5 separate regions of the Homo sapiens genome follow, and all the other regions are linked to region 1. The links come from fine-mapping of genetic effects on gene expression. A gene starts in region 1. Each other region holds a variant in brackets. All regions are shown on one strand. Distances are from middle to middle. Region 1 holds the start of P2RY14 (purinergic receptor P2Y14). Region 2 overlaps MED12L (mediator complex subunit 12L). Region 3 overlaps CLRN1-AS1 (CLRN1 antisense RNA 1). Region 4 overlaps MED12L (mediator complex subunit 12L). Region 5 overlaps CLRN1-AS1 (CLRN1 antisense RNA 1).

The links. PIP is the estimated chance that this variant, and not a neighbour inherited with it, causes the effect.
Region 2: its variant is fine-mapped to the expression of P2RY14 in esophagus mucosa (GTEx, PIP 0.97).
Region 3: its variant is fine-mapped to the expression of P2RY14 in whole blood (TOPMed, PIP above 0.99).
Region 4: its variant is fine-mapped to the expression of P2RY14 in whole blood (TOPMed, PIP 0.98).
Region 5: its variant is fine-mapped to the expression of P2RY14 in whole blood (TOPMed, PIP above 0.99).

What each region holds. Positions count from the first base shown.
Region 1 is chr3:151,276,858-151,281,009 of GRCh38, forward strand. It overlaps P2RY14 (purinergic receptor P2Y14), which reads right to left and starts at 1,685. Exons shown (of 3, transcript NM_014879.4): 1 at 1,430-1,685. All of the region lies in intron 16 of MED12L (mediator complex subunit 12L), which reads left to right.
Region 2 is chr3:151,235,749-151,239,900 of GRCh38, forward strand. The region is part of intron 16 of MED12L (mediator complex subunit 12L); the gene reads left to right. All of the region lies in intron 1 of P2RY14 (purinergic receptor P2Y14), which reads right to left. Among named protein-coding and RNA genes, the nearest start is that of GPR171, 35 kb to the left of the region's middle. The variant A/G (reference allele first, on the strand shown) is at 2,379.
Region 3 is chr3:150,987,630-150,991,781 of GRCh38, forward strand. All of the region lies in intron 1 of CLRN1-AS1 (CLRN1 antisense RNA 1), which reads left to right. Among named protein-coding and RNA genes, the nearest start is that of CLRN1, 17 kb to the left of the region's middle. The variant C/A (reference allele first, on the strand shown) is at 2,406.
Region 4 is chr3:151,228,675-151,232,674 of GRCh38, forward strand. The region is part of intron 16 of MED12L (mediator complex subunit 12L); the gene reads left to right. All of the region lies in intron 1 of P2RY14 (purinergic receptor P2Y14), which reads right to left. Among named protein-coding and RNA genes, the nearest start is that of GPR171, 27 kb to the left of the region's middle. The variant C/G (reference allele first, on the strand shown) is at 2,198.
Region 5 is chr3:150,975,408-150,979,559 of GRCh38, forward strand. All of the region lies in intron 1 of CLRN1-AS1 (CLRN1 antisense RNA 1), which reads left to right. Among named protein-coding and RNA genes, the nearest start is that of CLRN1, 4.8 kb to the left of the region's middle. The variant C/T (reference allele first, on the strand shown) is at 1,913.

The DNA of each region.
Region 1 (4,152 bases):
GTACCTTGGAATCTCCCCACTGTTCTTTTGGTTTTATTTTTGTTTGTTTTTGTTTTTGAGACAGGGTCTCACTCTCTCGCCCAGACTGGAGTGCAGTGGCCCGATCTCAGCTCACCACAACCTCTGGCTCCCAGACTCAAGCGATTCTCCTGCCTCAGCCTCCTGAGTACCTGGGATTACAGGCATGCACCACTACCACCCAGCTAATTTTTGTATTTTTAGTGGAGATAGGGGTTTTACCACGTTGGCCAGGCTGGTCTTGAACTCCTGACCAGCCTCTCCTGAGGCCACTCACCTTGGCCTCACAAAGTGCTGGGATTACAGGTGTGAGCCACCATGCCTGGCCTCCTTGTTTTTTTTTTTTCCAGACATGACAATATAGAGTTCATTCATATATACCAATGTGTTAATTGTGTGCACACAATTGTATGCATGTTTGTATATATAGTATTCATAAATTTTACCGAAATATAAAATTCATTGCATGTTTACAAATCATAAAATATGCCATTTTGGTATTTTCCGAGTGCATTGTTTTCTTTTTAACTTAATGGCTAGGTTTTTTTTTAGTGCTAAAACTGATTATCAAGTTTGTATGTTTTAGAAAGATGAATATACAAACTATTTATTTTTTTACTAGTGTGATCTTTGATTCATTTTCTCCGTAGGATTGATTGTCCTTGGTTAACAAAGTATATGTAGACAAGATGGATTGCATGGGCTTGGTTGAATAAGCTGACATTGTGGGTCTGTGCTAATTCTCCTGAATGTAATTTAATTTATAATGTTTAAAGAATTGTAAGTAATTTAGCTGATTAGTCATAGACTATAAATAAGTAGCATATGAACTCAAATATTTGCTATGCCTAGGACAGATATTTCTGTGATTTACAATTTAAAGGCATTTTATTTTAGTAGGTGTTAATGGGGTTAACTTATCCTAATAATGACAAAGATAAAAACTTTTACCTATATAAGTGTATGTACAAGTAAATGCAACTATATATCTGTACACATATGCAATTGCAAACAAAGACATACTGACCTAAGTATTATGCTAATCGATTTTGTAGTTTTGAGAAGCAATTTTAATACACATTTACGAGCTTTTGAAATGTTTGTCCTGGATGAATACCTTTTAAACATTTTCCTTGATATCTCTTCATCACAGATATATTTTGACAGCCACGATTGGAAATCCTAAATCATAAATGATAATATTTCAGTATTGGATCCCCATATTAGCATGGGGAAATATATTAATATACCAATTATAGTTGTCAAACAAAAAGTAACCTACTGAGAAAAATGTGAGTGGCAATGGTTCAGTGTTCCTCAGCTTTGTTGCTGCCCAGCTCAGAAATCTTTTCTGTTCCCATGCACCATTCACATACATGCAAGTCATTTCATGGAAAAGCTGTTTTCTTACCTGCGTCTAGGCCTTCATCTGTGAGAGTCATGCTTCACTCATTTTGAAATACCTCTCATTGTAGGCTCCAAGGTAACACTGTTACAGAGTTCTTGCTCATCTTCAACTACGGATGAAAATCAGGAACTTGACAGAAACCACAAGATAGTGGGTCCCTCTGCTGCTGTTGTCAGATAGAATTTATTGAAGACTGGGACGTGGAAACAAAGAGGAAGGAAGAGACGTTTTAATCTCTGTGGGTGTTAGGCTGACTTCTGAGCTAGTTCCTTTCCTCCAGTAATGCAAAAACAGTCCTGCTTTCTTATTTCTCCTCCTACTTTTCCCCACATCCCTACATCATCTGATGCACAGCCAGGCAAAAACCTGTTTTCTTTTCTAACCTTTGCCATTGTCAAATTCAACATGTGGTATGAGGTGGAGAACTGATGTGTAAGATATGGTTCTTTCTGAAGCACCCTCAGAAAATTGTCAGCAGCTTCACAGTATAACGTGCAGAGATGGGTAGTTGGAGCTACCTGGAAATGCGGAATTAACAGAATAAAGAAGTATTTTGACACCAATGTCGACATATTCTAGATAAGAGGTGTTGCATTGTCATTTTTCCCACATTAATTTTCCCATATTTGAACATTACTGATAAATAGATCACAAGTAGGACTTCAGATAAACTCCTCGTGTGTTAACATTTTGGTGTTTGTGCTGTGTTACTATTTTGAAAGTCTTCATATTTTTAGTTCCTTTCAGGCTCTGTAATATAATTGGTGATGTCCTGCAGTGCTCCACTGTCTTTCCCATTGACTATTAGTGCCATTAGATTTGGAAGTTTTCAGAAGATGGCTACAAAGTCCTCTTCAAAGTGTATAACTCAGAACCAGAAAGAAAGAAGACAAGGGGCTGAAAAGCTTACTTTATAAGGTTCCTGCATTTTAAGTGTATTTACTTAGGCTGTTCCATTGCCAAATTATGGGTAACAACTAGTAAAGTTCAGCTTGCCTTAAAAACATAGCTATACATTTAGTTATAATAATTATAACTGGCTTATGACATGCCCGTTACTATTCTAGTTGCTTTATATGTACTTGCTACGTAGGAGGCAGTGTTCTGGACATTGGAGATGGAGTAGTGACTGACACATACCCAAACAGTTATTTCCCTCATGAAGAGTATTTTCTTACTTTCTGTCTCACAGACTTGCTAGTCACTGTTGATCCTTGGCAAAGACCTGTGAGACACAGAGCTTGTTTAGAGAAGTTCGCCATTTCTCCCTGCCAGAGGGACTCTTCTTCAGACCCCCAGCGGGCCCCAATAGTCCTCACTGATGCTTTGATTGAGGGGCTAAGAATACTGATGTGCATAGAGAGGCTTGTTAGCTTCAGCTGCAGTGAGATCTGGTAGGTAAATAAACTTAAGGACAAGTGGATGTGAGGAGGAGCCGCTAGAGCCTGGTTATTACCAGGGCACATTGCAGAGTCCTCCAGATGTAAACATTTTGCTGATTAAATTGATGATTTGGCAGGAACCGTATCTCTAAGGTGCGACTCTCAAGACTTCCCTGATTTATTGCAGGAGATGCTGTTTACTCTGACAGTCTCAAAAACACCCATTAATTGTTCCGGGTCCCTTTTGTGCTTCTTGACTTCCCCGTGGGGTGTTTCACATAGATGTTATTGAGTATGACTGGGGAGAACATGATAATTTGTTGCTTCTTGACTTCCCCGTGGGGTGTTTCACATAGATGTTATTGAGTATGACTGGGGAGAACATGATAATTTCTTTGACTGGAGCTGCTTGCTTGCCTCTTAATGCCAGGAGTTGCAAAGTCCAAGGCCAAAAGGATAGCCCTACAGGTGGTCCCCTCGTGGCAGGTGGTACAAATGGGTTGGACTCTGTGTAAGACACTTGGGAGTAGAGGGAGTATGGAGAAATGGAAAGCTAAAGGGCCCACCCAGGGGGACAGTTGTGTCTGGAAGCTTGCCAGAGTCATGGGCCTCATCTTGGGATGGGCCAGTGTCTTCAGAACATTAAACGCTGATTTGCATGTACTGTTCTAAACACTCTGTGTGTTTTAGCTTGATTACTCACAATGGCTCCATGAGTAAAGTAGGTCTGTCTACTACTTCTTCCCCACCTTTTTCTTAATAGACAAGGAAACTGAGGCATGGAGATGTTACATCAGGTTGCTGGAGCTGGGCAGATCCTGGAGCCTGTGCACTGCTACTGCCTTTATATGTCTCCTCTGATTTCATTTGTTGGTGTCTAAATCGAATACCTTACAAACCAGTGTAGACCTGATACCCTGTGGGCTAAAACAAAACCTGAGTGTGCACTGTATTGGGCTTGTGAGCAGTCAGCTTGTGACCTCTGTTCTGTGGTTTTATTGGCACGTAGCAGTACAAGGATGGTGAGGGGTGGGTAGGGGGCAGACAGCTAGGCACTTGAAAGGAAAGCTCATCTGGAAAGATTGGATCGTCTCAAATGCACATACTCGTACACTCGATTGAAGCGTACTCTGTGCCTACTAGATCTTTTCACAGCCAAAACACCTGGCAACCCTTGGAGAAGTAACTATTCCTTTTTTTCACAAGTAAGAAAATAGAGCCTCAGAAAATTTAACAGTTGTCTAAGCTAGAAAGTAGCAGGACTGGACTTTGAAGTAGTCTTTAGGTTGTGCTGTACATTTTGTGGATATGCTTAAATCACAGTTTAGCTTGTACACATTTTCC
Region 2 (4,152 bases), 41 kb before region 1:
TCCTTGGAGCTGGCTTCTGCCTGTGATTGTCAGTCTCTGGTACCTTTGTGTGGCTGCCACATGCTGGTCTCTGTTAAAATGTCACCTTCTCAGCAAGGCCTTTCCTGTTCATGGCATCTAACATAGCCATTCCCCCTATGTCGCATTCTCTAGCCTCTTACCACGTTTGTTTTCTCTTGTCTCCCTTTGTTGTTTAAAATATTAGGTTGGTGCAAAAGTAATTGTGGTTTTTGTGATGACTTTCAATGGCAAAAACTGCAATTACTTTTGCACCAATCTAATATTTTTTAACTTATTCTCCTCTCCCCCTATTCTTACATACAGCCCTTCTTAAAGGTAAGCTTTGCCAGACCAGAATTTATTTCTCTTGTTAACGGCAAAATTAGGAGGTCCCAGAATAGAGCTTGCTCTACAGTTAGAAGCTCAATGAATATTTATGGAATTTCAGAATGAACTTACTTATACAACTTTGGTCAAATTAAGGATTTCCTTAACTGTCAAATGATGAGTTTGTTCAGCACTTCTAGAGTTTTAAAATGTACTTTTATATTTTGAATTGCCACTTCAATGTGCATAGTAGATTAACATATATAGATATCCTTTTAAATCTCTGGATCACAGAATTAGAATAATCATAATTCTTGATTCAGGAAGCATTCTTGTTATGCAGCATTCAAGCAAGGATGACTTTTTACAGATTTATTTTGTTATTCTTAACGATGTTAATAATCTCCTTCAGACTCAGTAACCAAAACGAAAGCCAAGACCTTGACAGTAAGCAGCTGCTCTTGTCTAAATGGTCCATCCTCCCACCCCCATGCCATCTCTCTGGATACTTTTATTCCACATTACCTGAGTCATGTGTTCTTCAATCTTTCACTTTTCCTGTTTTACAAATTTTTGTAACATCTATATGTATTCCTAAAAGTGTGTGTGAATGAAGTTATGATTTTAAAACTGTATGTAATCTCTTCATGATTTTTCTATATATTTTACTGACATAAATATATAAAATTTGATTTCATATATATCGTACACATCCATGTTATTAAGTATTGCTATAATTAATTTTGTTTTGGTTACTGTATAGCATTCTGCTGTGTGACCATATCATAGTTAATTCAGTTTCTTGTATTTGGGGTATTTCCAGGTTTTTGCCATTGTGAGTCATGCCGAGATGCATATCTTTGTTGCCTATTGATGGACATTTGAAAATTTCTCGTGGATATAAACCTAGGAGTTAAATTGCTGAGTCAAGGACAGCATGAATGTTAAACTTCAGGAAGTGATGCCAAACTTTTTTTTTTTTTTTTTTTTTGAGACGGAATCTCGCTCTGTTGCCCAGGCTGGAGTACCAGTCTCGGCTAACTGCAACCTCCGTTTCCCAGGTTCAAGCGATTCTGCCTCAGCCTCCATAGTAGCTGGGACTACAGGTGCATGCCACCACGCCCAGCTAATTTTTTGTATTTTTAGTAGAGACGGGGTTTCACTGTGTTGGCCAGGCTGGTCTTGAACACCTGACCTTGTGATCCACCTGCCTCAGCCTCCCAAAGTGCTGGGATTACAGGCGTGAGCCACCACGCCTGGCTTTTTTTTTTTTTCTTTTTTTTTTTTTTTTGAGACAGAGTCTTACTCTTGTCGCCCAAGCTGGAGTGTGGTGGCACGATCTTGGCTCACTGCAACCTCCACCTCCTGGGTTCAAGCGATTCTCCTGCCTCCGCCTCCCAAGTAGCTGGGACTACAGGTGCCCGCCACCATGCCTGGCTAATTTTTTGTATTTTTAGTGGAGATGGGGTTTCACCATGTTGGCCAGGCTGGTCTCGAACTCCTGACCTCAGGTGATCTGCCCGCCTCGGCCTCCCAAAGTGCTGGGATTACAGGTGTGAGCCACTGCGCCCAGCCGCCAAACTGTTTTCCAAAGAAGTTACACTAGTTTATATTCCTACCAATGATGTGTAGTGATCCTGTGGATATCAGTCCTCTCTGACGTTTTATCTTTTCAGATTAAAAATTTTTTTCTTATGAAATGTTATTATATTGTAGTCTTCATTTGTACAGTGATCTCAAATGATATGGGCATCTCTTCATATGATCACTGGTATTTCTATGAAATGTCTAGTCACATTTTTTGCTTATTTTTCTGTTGGGTTGTTTATGCTGTTACTGATTTGTAGACTTCTTTGAATATTGTTGATATTTTGTTTGGTGTCTCTACTATAAATAGGCTTTCTAGATTGTGACTTACTGTTTTCACTTTTAAAGTTATATTTCAAGAAGCAAAATTTACCAATTTTAAGGATCAAATTATCGTTTTTTTCTTTTCTAACTAGTGCTTTTTGTATCTTAAAACTTTTCTGTCCTAAAGTTTAGAACAGTGC[A/G]CATTTTTTCTTTTTTCTTTTTCTTTTTCTTTTTTCTTGAGATGGAGTCTCGCTCTGTCACCCAGGCTGGAGTGCAGTGGCACTATCTTGGCTCACTGCATCCTCCGCCTCCCAGGTTCAAGCAATTCTCCTGTCCCAGCCTCCCAAGTAGCTGGGACTACAGGCACCTGCCACCTTGGCCGGCTAATTTTTGCATTTTTAGTAGAGACGGGGTTTCACCTTGTTGGTCAGGCTGGTCTCGAACTCCTGACCTCAGGTGATCCACCCGCCTCAGCCTCCCAAAGTGCTGGGATTACAGGCGTGAGCCACCGCGCCCAGCCTGGAACAGTGGTTTTTAAAATGTGGTCTGCAGAACCACAGGGGTTCCTGACACCCTTTCAGAGACACTATGAAATCAAATCCATCTTTATAAGAGTACTAAGATGTTGCTATTTTCATCGTGCTGAAATTTGCACTGATGGTGCAAAAGCCATGATGTGTAAAATGTTCAGGTGTCTTAGCACAAATCAAGGCAGTGCACTCAACTGTTCATTGCATTTTATACCTTACTGACATACAATCTTAAACAAGAAAAGAAAAATCAGTTTTACCAATTGCTTAATAAAGCAATACTAGTTTTTATTAAATCTCAACCATAAAAATATCTTTTTAATATTTTGTGTGCCAAAATATTAATTATGTATAAAGTACATTTGCTACTTATGATTGTCTAGAGGAATGAACACTTGTATAATTGAGTTATAAGCTGAATTAGATGCATTTTTCATGGAACACCATTTTTACTTGATCGAATGACAAACTAATAATTGTACTTGGGTGTTTGGCAAACATTTTCTCAAAACTGAATGAACTGAGAGACAATTTTTGACAATGATAAAATTCAAGCTTTCAAACTGAAAGCAGAATTTTGGAAAGCTTCTGTCTGCTGTTGTGAGTTTCGTAGCTTTCCGGTATTGACACTGTGAGGAGGGGCAATATTAATTAGTATGATTTTTTGGTACTGTAGAATGAAAAGTGTTTATATTTACAAATTTCTGCATGAATGTATTTTATCTACATGACCAATGTATGATGTTATAAAATTGGGCATAAGTAAAACACATAGACTTAAAGGTCAAGACCAAAAGATTTCAGTGTTACAAAGTATAAAATATTCATTGACATGGTTTTAGATCCAATATTGCAATCATGCTTTAAAAAACCACCTGTTGAGTTTTGTGCTGTCAAAGAAGAAAATCCAGAAGGCCATTATTTATCTGTATGGGATTGGATTTTCTTCAACATACTTTTAACCTAAACATTTTGCAAGAGATTGGACATGGAAGTGGATATGAGAATCCAACTGTCTTCTCTAGGCCAGATGTTAAAGAGATTTGCAAAAATGTAGAATAACATGACTTGTTGACATAAATTTTTTTGAAAATATTTTTCATAAAAATGTTACTTGTGTTAACCTGCTATTTAAAAGTTTTATAACTGTCACAATTTTAATTTCTAAAATAATAAGTATGGATAGGTATACACAAAAGCTCTTTGAGGTCCTCAGTAATTTTTTAAGAGTAAAAGGGATCCTGAGACCAAAAATTTGAGAATTCTTGGCTAAAATACATTTATCTATATTTTCTGATAAGAGATTTTGTTATGGTTGTTAGTTTGCTTGTTTTAGCACTCCAGCTCTTAAGCTATTAAATATATGTATTATACTGGACTGTCTATAAATATCAAAAAAGGACACCACATTTTATGAAGAGTAATTAAATTTAAAAATATATGA
Region 3 (4,152 bases), 290 kb before region 1:
AAAAGGTAGTATTACAAACTGTTGTTATGATAATATTGACTTTTATAATTGCATGCGTGTGTACCTTTATTGAGATTCTTATTTATTTATAAGATTGTGAGTTACTGTCTAGTGTCCTTTTATTTTACCGTGCCTTACTCCCTTGAACATGTCTTACAGGGCAGGGCTAGTGATGACAAACTCCCTCATCTTTTGTTTTATCTGGGAATATCTTAATTTCTCCTTCACTTTGAAGGACAGTTTTGCCAGATATAGGAATCTTGGTTGACAGTTTTTTTTCTTTTCTTTTCGAACTTTGGATATATCAGCCTTTTAGCCTCCAAAGCTTCTGATGAGAAATCTGCTGATAATCTTATTGAAGATTTCTTGCATATGATGAATTATTTCTCTCTTTCTGCTTTCATGAGTCCCTCTTTGTCTTTTGAAAGTTTGATTATATATAATCTGTCTCTGTGTGAGTCTCTTTGAGTTTATTTTACTTGGAGTTATTTGAACTCCTTGGCATTTATGTTTATATTCTTCATCATATTTGTAAAGTTTCCACCATTATTTCTTTAACTGTTTCCTCTACCCTCTTCTCCTTTTCTCACAGTATGTATATTGGTGGTGTTCAACAGGCCCCTTAGGCTCTGCTCACTTTTTGTTAATCTTTTTTCTTTCTGTTTCTCAGACATGATCATTTCCATTGTTCTATGTTCAGGTTCATAGACTCTTTCTTTAACCTGCTCAAATCTGCCTTTGAATCCTTCTAGTGAATTTTTATTTCACTTATTGTACATTTCAGCTCCAGAATTTCTTATTGGTTTCTTTGTAGGTTTTCTGTTTCTTTATGGCTATTTCCACTTTGTTCAAATATTGTCTTCTTGACTTTCTCCATATCTCCCTTTAATTATTTGGGCATCTTTAAGACAATAATTTTAAGGGTTTTTGTCAACTAGATCTACCATCAGAATTATTTATTTATTTATTTATTTATTTATTTATTTAGAGACAGAGTCTCACTCTGTCACCCAGGCTGGAGTACAGTGGCATGATCTCAGCTCACTGCAACCTCCACCTCCTGGGTTCAAGGGATTCTCGTGTTTCAGCCTCCCAAGTAGCTGGGACTAGAGGTGTGCACCAGCACACCTGGCTAAGTTTTGTATTTTTAGTAGAGATGGGGTTTCACCATGTTGACCAGGCTGGTCTCGAACTCCTGGCCTCAAGTGATCTGCCTGCCTCGACCTCCCAAAGTGCTGGGATTACAGGCATGAGGCACTGTGCCCAGAGACCATCAGATCTTTTTCAGGGGCTGTTTTGTTTATTTATTTCTTCCTTTGAATGGACTATATTTTCCTGTTTCTTTGTGTATGCCTTATAATTTTTTTTATCAAAAACCAGACATTTAAATCTAATAATGCAGTAACTCTGGAAATCATATTCTTTCCCTTTCCCAGGTTATACTATTTTCATTTTTTTTTATTTTTTTAAAAATTGTTTTAGGTAGGTTGTTTCTGCGCCAAGGATAAGCCTGAGGTGTAAAATTAAGGTCTTCTCAGGTCTTTTCTGAGCCTGTCTTTCTCTGGGCATGAACATTTGTTCTAATTGCTAATGTATATGCAGTTGCTTTTGAATGTCCTAGTCTTCAATGTCTGCCTCCCAAAAGGGAAAAAAGAGAAAACTAAGGATGTGGAGAGTGGTGCCAGCCATTTACTCCTTTGGAAGTCACTTCAGCTGGACAGGGAGGGGCTTGCCACAGTGGGAGAGATGCAGCAACAATGGCCAACTATGTGTTTGTCTGCGCCTCTGTGATCAGAAGCTGCAATCAGTGATGGCTGGGCACAGTGGCTCATGCCTGTAATCTGAGTACTTTGGGAAGCTGAGATGGGAGGATCCGTTGGGGCCAGTAGTTCAAGACCAGCCTAGGCAACATAGTGAGACCTTGTCTCTAAAAGAATTTTAAAAATTAGCTGGGTGTGTTGGTACATGCTTGTAGTCCTAGCTACTTGGGAGGCTGAAGTGGGAGAATTTCCTGAGCCCAGAGGTTCCAGGCTGCAGTGAGTTATGATCGCACAACTGTGCTCCAGCCTGGGTGATGGAGCAAGACCTGGTTTAAAAAAAAAAAAAAAATCCACACACAGGTTATTCAAAACAAAACAAAACAAACAAAAAACAGAAGAAGAAGCTGCAATCAGTGAGCAGAGCACAAATGCACAAATCCCCAGCATTTGGAGGTCAGGGTCCCCTGGCTCCCACAAACTGTGTAAAAGCTGCTTCGGGAACAAGTACATACCTGCATACCATGGGGCTGGGGGTGAAGGAAGGATAGCTGCTACTGCAGTAAGAGCTGAAATTGACCACAGTTAACCACAATTTACTAAGCCTTCCCTAGACATTGCAAATTTTCAACAGACTCCAGAGTTCCT[C/A]AATAGCTACATCCGACAGATTTTGCCAGTGAAATTGTTTCTAGGTGGGCAGACAAATTCCTGTTGCTTCCTACTTTGTCATCTTCCCAGAATGCCCTCCTTGCACAAAAGTTTTTGAAACCACTGAATCTTTTGTCACCTCCAAACAACACCCTAAATAAGCAGATCTTTAGTCTCCAATAATTCTAAAAGTCAGGAGTAGTCATATGTTTAAAATGAGTGATAATAATGTGCTGTGAGGATGAAATGGAATAATATAAATACCTTGAAATAGTGCTTAGCATATAATAAATGCTTAATAAATGTTAGCTATTCTTTATTATAATAATTTTTATTTAAATTATAATTACTTTCTGAACTGGGGAGATGCCTCACCAGAAACAGTTAAAATATCAAGGATGTTTTAAGAAAACTGCTGGACCAAGAATTAACACTTGCTACATATTGGTTCCTATTTTTATACCAAATTTTAAAACATTAAACATAAGACTTAAATTTTTGACAATTTCTTGCTCAATATCCTAGTATGCTTAGTTACCATTCTAATATATCTTTTCACACAGGTTCTCTCTGAAATACTTAACTTTAGAAAGATTTATAGTTCTTAAGTGGGGCTATTTTATTCCATTTTAGTCCTTGGTAGTAACTTCCAACCAATGAATTCCCTGTAGGAATACTCACAATTTAGTGTATGCAATATGATTAATTTTAGCTCCAGAAAAAAGGCAGACATTTTTTCTTTGAAAATTTGAGCGGCTTTAATGTATTGTGAGTATGCATGTAGGATCTCATTCAACTGCAGTTTCTTATCTCATCAAAGTTATCTCCTCACATCCTTATGACATTTGCCTTATCTTTAATTTGTAGGAGTAATATTTTCCAGGTCAGAGGAGAGAGTAAATTTTCCATAGCTAATTTTCCAACTAAAAGCTGATGTACATACAGACACAATTCTGTTGGCATTTCCAGGGCATTGAATACCAAAGAAAATATATTTTATGATTATCTTGGGGGCATGAATGTACCTATATTATAGAAGAATTGGTAATAAAGAAGATTTATCAATTTAATTACTGGTGTGTTACACTTGGGCACCATGTAGCATTTTTTTGGTCCTACAAATAACTGTACTGAACAGGGCTGAATCTATGATGTAGCCCACAATGAACTCTCAGAGGTGTGGTTCCTGGAAGAAGCCTCATTGCTGAAACTATCCTCTTGCCCAAGGCTTTGCCCAACATTGTGATACACATGGTCAAGTGCAAACATCTTCTTTAGGAATTTCAAAGATTTGGCCGGATGTCTTTGCAGTAGAATTACTCTTTGAGTTTGAGAAACTAATTGAGTTCAGTATAGGCATGGAAAGACACTTGGAGGAATATGCCAAAATATTAATAGTGGCTATGCCTTGGGGAATGGCGTTGAATGTGAAGGAGAAAAACCAGAAGGGAACTTTCGCTTATTATTTCATCTGCTTCTGTATTATTGAACTGTTTATAACCTAAATGTATTAATTGCAGAAAAAAGGCAGCAGCCTTTACCAGCCACCTGGTCTCCCAGCTCAGAAACCAGGGAAGTAGGCACACCATTTCTTTTTCCTTCACTCCTCATGCCTGATCAGTAATTGAACTCTGTGGGTTTTCTTCCTAAATATCTCTCAAATGCATCCCTGTTCCCCGTTTTCACAGCTGTGCCTCAGCCCAGGCACTCAGGAACACTCCTCTGACTAACAAAAAGAGCCTCTGAA
Region 4 (4,000 bases), 48 kb before region 1:
TCCAGAGTGTTTCAGTTCTAATTTACCAGTCCCTACACAATGCTAATCTTTCATGAGAGTGGCACAAAGCTCTGCATCACTCCTGGCTTCAGGGTTTTGGGAACCAATTCTTTTTTCTCCTGGAACTAGGTTGAGCTGCCTGAATTACTGAATTTTTTCCAGCCTGTTCTTCTGCAGCATTGTTTTGGAATATGTGGTCCTATTCCCTGGGGCCAGGCAAGGAAATGAATCCATGACCTCTTTTCGCCTCACTGAGATGGTATTTGCATTTCTCAGGCAAGCAGTACTCAGATCTGCAGATCATGGGGCTGTTAGACCATTAGTGGTTATCCTTTGCTGTGAAGATGAAGACAAATTTCCATGTGTGAGAAAACAACAGCTTTAACTGCTTAGCTGAATATCAACCACTTGTGTGTTTGTTCAAGATTCAGGCTTATATAGCCAAAGGAAAAGAATATAAATATCCAGAATTTTAAGTGGGAGTAGAAATACTGTACAGAAGTGATTCCCATATACTCTCTAACCCAAAGTGTTGTATGTTTCCTCCCTGTTTTGTGTATTAATCCCTGTTAGAGGGTTCTTTGATTTTAATAAAACATACTGTGGTAATAACTTATAAATTCAGCAATTCTTTTTTTTTTTTTTTTTTTTGAGATGGAGTCTTGCTCTGTTGCTCAGGCTGGAGGGCAGTTTCGTGATCTCCGCTCACTGCAACCTCGCCTCCCGGGTTCAAGCGATTCTCCTGCGTCAGCCTCCCGAGTAGCTGGGACTACAGGCTCGTGCCACCATGCCCGGCTAATTTTTTTTTTTTTTTTTTTTTTTGAGACGGAGTCTCACTTTGTCGCCCAGGCTGGAGTGCAGTGGCACGATCTTGGCTCACTGCAAGATCCGCCTCCCGGGTTCATGCCATTTTCCTGCCTCAGCCTCCCTAGTAGCTGGGACTACAGGCGCCCACCACCATGCCTGGCTTATTTTTGTATTTTTAGTAGAGATGGGGTTTCATCGTGGTCTCAATCTCCTGACCTCGTGATCCGCCTGCCTCGGCCTCCCAAAGTGCTGGGATTACAGGCATGAGCCACTGCGCCAGGCGAACTGAGCAATTCTTAAACGAATTTGTGTTTTATTAACTAGAGCATGCAACAATGGAGCAACTGTATTAGTTGCAAACTTAGTAGGACTTAAGGGTGAAAGATGCACTTTTATGCAGCTTGAAGATGTTGTTCAAGTTGTATTTGAAATCAAAGACCTTTACTTTTTATGAGTCCTAGGCTCACATGTTGGGATCTGTTTTTTTGTTTTTTGTTTTTGTTTTGGATATGGAGTCTCGCTCTGTTGCCCAGGCTGGAGTGCAGTGGTGCGATCTCAGCTCACTGCAAGCTTCGCCTGCTGGGTTCACGCCATTCTCCCGCCTCTGCCTCCCAAGTAGCTGGGACTACAGGTGCCCGCCACCACGCCTGGCTAATTTTTGTTTTTGCATTTTTAGTAGAGACGGGATTTCACCGTGTTAGCCAGGATTGTCTTGATCTCCTGACCTTGTGATCCGCAAGTCTCGGCCTCCTAAAGTGCTGGGATTACAGGCGTGAGCCACCGCACCCGGCCGGGATCTGTTCTTGAATATGCGTGTCTGTTTTAGAACATTCCACTTGTGATATTTCACCTTTCCCATGAATTTCAATAGAAGTCAGTCAAGTACAGTGTAAGAAAATAGTCTTATGTCTTGCCCTGCCCCAGGGGAGCTGTTAGATGCCATTTCATTATTGCCTCAGGTATAATACCTGTATGTAAAAAAATTCTGATAAACACTCCTTTCTCGTTATACTATACACTACACTTTGATGCTCATTGACATCCTTGGACTGTGAAACGTGCCAGGACTAGTTTTGTTTTACTCCACGCTTTTTTTTTTTTTTTGAATGCACTTCCACTTCCTTCTAATGTTTCTTTGAACTCTATGTGTTATTGCTTTTCTCTTTTCTATTTTCAACGTCTCTTTCTAAGGGCTACTTCCCTTCAAACTTTAAACCTGCTCAAAGTCCTTAATAAAAAAAAGTAATAAAATCTGTATGTCTGTAAGTCATGACACCCCAATAGCTGTAAACTTGCTCAAGCCATTTTTAAATAACAAAAGTGAAACCCCCCTGCCAATGCAGAAGTAGTGACTTCCCACTGTCAGTGAGCTCATCTTGTTTGGAACTCT[C/G]ACTAGCCACTGAAAGGAAACAGGGCTCCTTAAGAGAAATTACTGATTTCCGATCAGGTACAGGAAAAGTATAAGTTGAGTTGTGACATCTTTTGATCAGAAAGCAAGGAAGTGCTCAGACCGATTAGGAAATGCTAAAAAAGGACACAGAAGCCGACTTGAGGGCACTCCTAGATCTGGGACAGTTTGGGCATTAATGAGAATGATAGCAACAGGTGAAAATACATTGAAAACCAAAACAAATTCAGGAGTTTATGGTGATATTAAAAGTACAGATTACAAAAAGGTAGGATGCAAATGAGAAAGCTCTTGTTTACAGGAGAATGCTGGCTAGTAAAGGTAGAAGAAGGGTAGAATTTAGGACATCACCATTTTGCAACCTCAGTGTGATAACTGATTCAGGCAATAAGCTTCAATTGTGGCCAAAAGCCACTGGGTGAATGGGTGTGGGAGAATAGTATCTTTCAGTCTGAAAACATACTCCCCCATCATTTAGAGTAATAAAAAGTATACCTCTGAAGCAGAGAGATCTGGTGGTCACTGAATGATCCAACTTACCAAAAGTGAGATAATCTGGCATCGTATGCCTCCTGATATGATTTAGTTAGATGTACACAACATACTTTTGTAATAAACTGTATCAAAAATCTTCAATGAGCAATCAGACAAATTTAGAATATGAAACATTTGATAAAGCAACCAGCCTTGGACTCTTTAAAAAAATCAATGCCACGAGAAACAAACATGATGGGCTGGAAGGGGACAGTCGTAGATTAAAACAGGCCAAAGAGAAATAACACCGTTAATGAGTGGTGATTGTTGGCTGGAGGGAATAGCCATACAAATTGTTTTGAGACAGTTGTATAACTCTGAATACAGATTCTAGATTAGGTAATATTACTGAGTAATAATCTTCCCAGAAATATTGATGGTGTGGTTAAGCGAGAGAGTATTTAGAGATGCTTATTGAAGTATTTAGAAGGGAAGGGTCATGATTACCTGCAACTTATTTTGAAAGTACTTCAGTACAAGAAAACAAAGTGTTATGTTTGTATGTTTGTATAAACTTGTGTATTCATGGGCTTTTTTTGCTGATATATGCATGCCTATATGCACATATACATGTATACACACACGTGTGTGTGTTGGTTTTGAGGGAAGGGTCCTGTGCTCCGTGCCTGACAGGTAACGAATGCCTAATAACAGTCTCCTGGGTGTCTCTGCTATTTTTCTTACCTTTCCTTCTTACTTTCCTGTGGGGTCTCCTCTGCCCATCCTTAAAATTGATGTTTCTTGTTCTATTCTTGGCCATTTTCTTTTCTCTTTCTATATACTCCTCTATGCCAAAGTAGTCTTTACTTAAAACATTGTTTGTAGCTCTTTGAGCAATCACAGTGTTGCTTTCCACAATGGTTGAACTCATTTACCCTCCCACCAATGTGTGGAAGTGTTCTCTTTTCTCTGCAACCTTGCCAGCATCTGTTATTTTTTGACTTTTTAACGATAGCCATTCTGATTGGTGTGAAAACAGAACTACCATTTGACCCAGCCATCCCATTACTGGGTATAAACCCAGAGGAATAGAAATCATCCTACCATTAAGACACATGCACATGAATGTTCATTTCAGCACTATTTCATAATAGCAAAGACATGGAATCAACTTAAATGTCCATCAGTGACAGATTGGATAAAGAAAATGTGGCACATATATGCCATGGAATACTATGCAGCCATAAAAAAAGAATGAGATCATGTCTTGTGGGAATATGGATGGAGCTGGAAACCATTATCCTTAGTAAA
Region 5 (4,152 bases), 300 kb before region 1:
TATTGTTGAAATTTTCTTTCTTTAATGAGATAATGGTAGTTGAATTTTTAATGATTTTATTTGACAAATTTAGAAACTGGCAAACCTATGTCTACTCCTGATTTAAAACAAAACCAAATCAAACCCACTGCTCTATGACATAAAAGATCCCTGAGTGGAAAGGGTGAGACTCACCCTTTGAGGCCTAAAACCTCACCCTTTGCTTTGACACGGTGGTTCTCAGTTTTGCTGCTCATTAGAATCACTTGAGAAGATTTTAAAAGTACTGATGTCTGTGTCCTCATCCCTGAGATTCAGATTTATTTGATTTTAGAGTATGGCCTTAGCGTCGAATCACCCCAGGTGATTGCATTGTGCAGCCAAGGTTGGAAGCCACTGCCCTTATCTCCTTTTCACATGGCTATCTACTGATTACAAACTAGGCTTTGCAGGCATCTCAGTGCTGGAATGCACACAGACATGAGCATCTGGGTCGCTAGAGAGGAATATGCTCATAGCAAATTAATAAATAGGCACTACCATTTACAGCTCAAACTTTCCTACATTTTTTCAGCACTAGGTTTCAGCATATCCACAACAAAAGACCAGGCCCCGATTCATAGATTTACCCCCAAATCACCATATGAATATCAATGGTGCTGTATCCTGTTCATGTGAGGCAGCCCCCCTCACCTCTTCTCCATGCAGCTTCCTTTCAAACTTCAGCATCAGCCACCCACAGGCTGCGTAGTAGTGTGTGTGATCCACCCTCTGAGAATGATATAATGGAACCTGGCAGTCATTATGCCTGACAGCCTTCTTTTGAAATTTCATCTTAAATGTCTTGAATGACAGTGATGACACCATTTTCCTTGCAGTCTCTCTGAGAATTTGAGTCATTAATGTCAGCAAGTTTTCACCAAGTATCCTGCTGAAATCTTTACTTCTCTCAATCTTAATAGGAATACATTCGGTGACATAAGAAAATGGAACTAGGCCTCCCCCTCCTCTGACCCCTTTCAGGTGCTGGATAATGATATAATTCTTCAGAGTGACTAGAGATTCTGTAGAGAAAGGAGCACAATTGCAGACTCTGTTTTCACTTCCAGTGTAGCATTTGTGCCTCTTCTCACACTAACTTGGCTGCATCAGTTTTTCCTTATAACCATTTGAAAACAAAAGAAAAAAAGCAGCCCCATTACAAAGGGATGCAAATTCTCACCTGGTTTGTTCGCCAAGTATAAGAGACAGTATAGCATGGCATGGGAAGATCCTGTCCAGGGTCTATTTCCAGCTGTATGGCTAAATTAAGAATTCCTTCTCTGGCATTAATTTTACATATTTATGAAAAGAGTGGTCTGGGCTGCATAGGTGATTCTCAAATCATTTTTAAGAAGAAAAACCATTGCCTCAACACAACTTGTGTGAAATAAGACAAAAATCGAGCTGCTATACTGGGAGGGTGGGTGATCAAGGAGTTGTCACTGGGCTCCCCAGCTCCCTACTCCCTACAGTGTCCTATCCCCAACGTGAAAGACAGCTTCGAGAAGCACAGTTTGGCTCCTTTAGTTCCCATTTAACTAAAGAAAAAAAAATTTAATAAGCCATAGAACTACAGTTTGGCCATTTGCTAGATTATGTCTCTTTTTTCTTTGCTGTGCTAACCTGTTAGCTATTACGGAATATTGCATTGCCCAGGGACACTGCATGGCTGATTATTCCAATTATTAATTTTTAGATTATTTAATGAGAGGTTCTATGTTTTGTCTGATTTGTCACTGGTAGTACTGATTTTGATTTTCCTCCAAATGGATCATTATACTCCAAGGCCTCTCTAAGAGAGATTCAACAAGGGTCTATCAAGCTTCCTATTCTAAGACAAGAGGCCTTTGTAAATCTACCCCATTTTTCTCATCTTTAAAGCAAAATCTGG[C/T]AAATTTGATTGACGTGCCTTGACTAATTCAAGTTGCTGGTGATCCTCAAGTAGCATTGTAATTTTCTAATGACTGTAAAGGAAAAAAACACTCCATGGAAAGAATTGATTGATTTATTAGAGAGAAAATTACCACATGTGCTAGACCTTGATTGCAGCTAATATTTGTAGAGCTAATTGCTTGAACTAGAGGATTAAAAGGATTGAGGGAAAGGAAGAAAAAGAAAACAAAGTTCTCTTGGAATACAGATGAACCCGCAGTGGATTTGGACTGAGAGGAGAGAATTCAGTACAGGGATTTTTGGGGCTGATGATGGTTGTGGAGACATTTAGAATAAGTGAAAGAATTGTGCTTCTGACACAAAAGCCACAGAGAGGAACCAGGGAGTGGAGTAAAGTTGCTGCCCATGCTGTCTGTTAAATAAGATCTCGTGGCCGGGCGCAGTGGCTCACGCCTGTAATCCTAGCACTTTGGGAGGCCGAGGAGGGTGGATCACGAGGTCAGGAGATCGAGACCATCCTGGCTAACATGGTGAAACCCCGTCTCTACTAAAAATACAAAAAAAATTAGCCGGGCGTGGTGGCGGACGCCTGTAGTCCCAGCTACTCGGGAGGCTGAGGCAGGAGAATGGCGTGAACCCGGGAGGCAGAGCTTAGAGTGAGCCGAGATCGCGCCACTGCACTCCAGCCTGGGCGACAGAGCAAGACTCCGTCTCAAAAAAAAAAAAAAAAGATCCAGTGTGACACCTTCGGATTTGTCTGGGTTTCTTGTTGGTATCTCACATTAAGGCTATGTTGATACTTAAGCTTCACCCAGCAGAATGTCTGAGCTCCTACAGAAAGGAGGAAAAAGTTACCTAACCTGAAGAGGTGAAGAAAGAAGGCATAGTTTAAGACACATCCTTTAACGATAATAGGCAAACCACATTCCTAGCACAGGGAAACAGATAATAATTGTCCTCATTGATATAACTTAGGATAGATGTGCTAAAATAGTACATTTTGGGGTAGTTTGATTTGGTGATTACCAACTTTTTTTTGTTTGTTTGTTTTAAGACAGGGTCTCACTATATTTTCAGGCTAGTCTTGAACTCCTGGGCTTAAGTGATTCTCCTGCCTCAGCCTCTCAAGTAGCTGGGACTACAGGCACGCACCACAGATATAAACTCTGTGACAGCCACATTTGAACAATGTGACCCACCCTCTCTAGCCTACTTTGATTAGGATTAGACATCTAAATCAACCAGATTGTGTCTCCTGAAAATGTAAAAGTAATATTAAGAGACGCAAGTCAAATCACTGGAAGCCAGTCTGCAAAAATTGAGAAGGAAGCAATTTTTTTTCCCCACCAATAAAGCCTTGAACTGCCCTATAGTGCCCAAATTTATTGTTCAGTTTTTCTCCAGCTGTCACCATTCTCCTTCCCGGCAGTCAAGTGCAGTTCTCTGTTTTCAAAGTTCTCTTTGTCTTTTACTTGTTTTGTCTTTTTCCTCTTTGTGTGCATTCTAAAAAAAGCTTCTGGGAGGCACTGATTTTCAGCTCTCCCCACCATCTGGCTCTTGGTCCAGGGCACTAGGTGAAACAAACTGTGATGGCTGCCTAGTGAAGGGACAGGTGGTAGCTACTCAGACCCTATGTGAGGTACATATATATATTGGTATCAACCGTCCGGAGTCACAAGGTCTCTGTGGCCAACACTGCCCTAGCTTAGTGGGAGCTTTCAATCAAGCTGGCCTTGTCTGGTCCTTCCTTCATCAGGGATGAATATTGCCCTTTTATACTGTCACTAAAGGTGTTCAGGGCCCCACCCTCTTATCCTGGAGGAACCATAAGAGTACCGGGCTGCTGAACTTCCTGGGATTGACTTCATGGAGAGAAGCAGAAGGAGTAGGGAGGGCTGAACTGGGTCCTGGAGCACAGACAAGCTGGGATGCTGTTGGTCAAGGCTGCTGTCTGGTGGCGGGCCTCACTAGCTGGCCACGAGAAGGACTGGATAGCAGCACAACTGGGTAAAATCATCTGGCACTTGACTTCCACTCTAGCTCCAGCTTAGTTTCCCAATACTCTCCCTTCTGACTACTGGGTGCCTTCCTCCTTTTTACTTTCCTAGACTACAGTGACCTTTAGCAAATTGGCAGGCAGCAATGTGTGTCCTGCTTAGATCTGACTCTTTCTGCCTCCAACCCCCAGGGGAGATATAAAGGAATCAGACATGTAGAGAAGGGAGAACACACATGAAT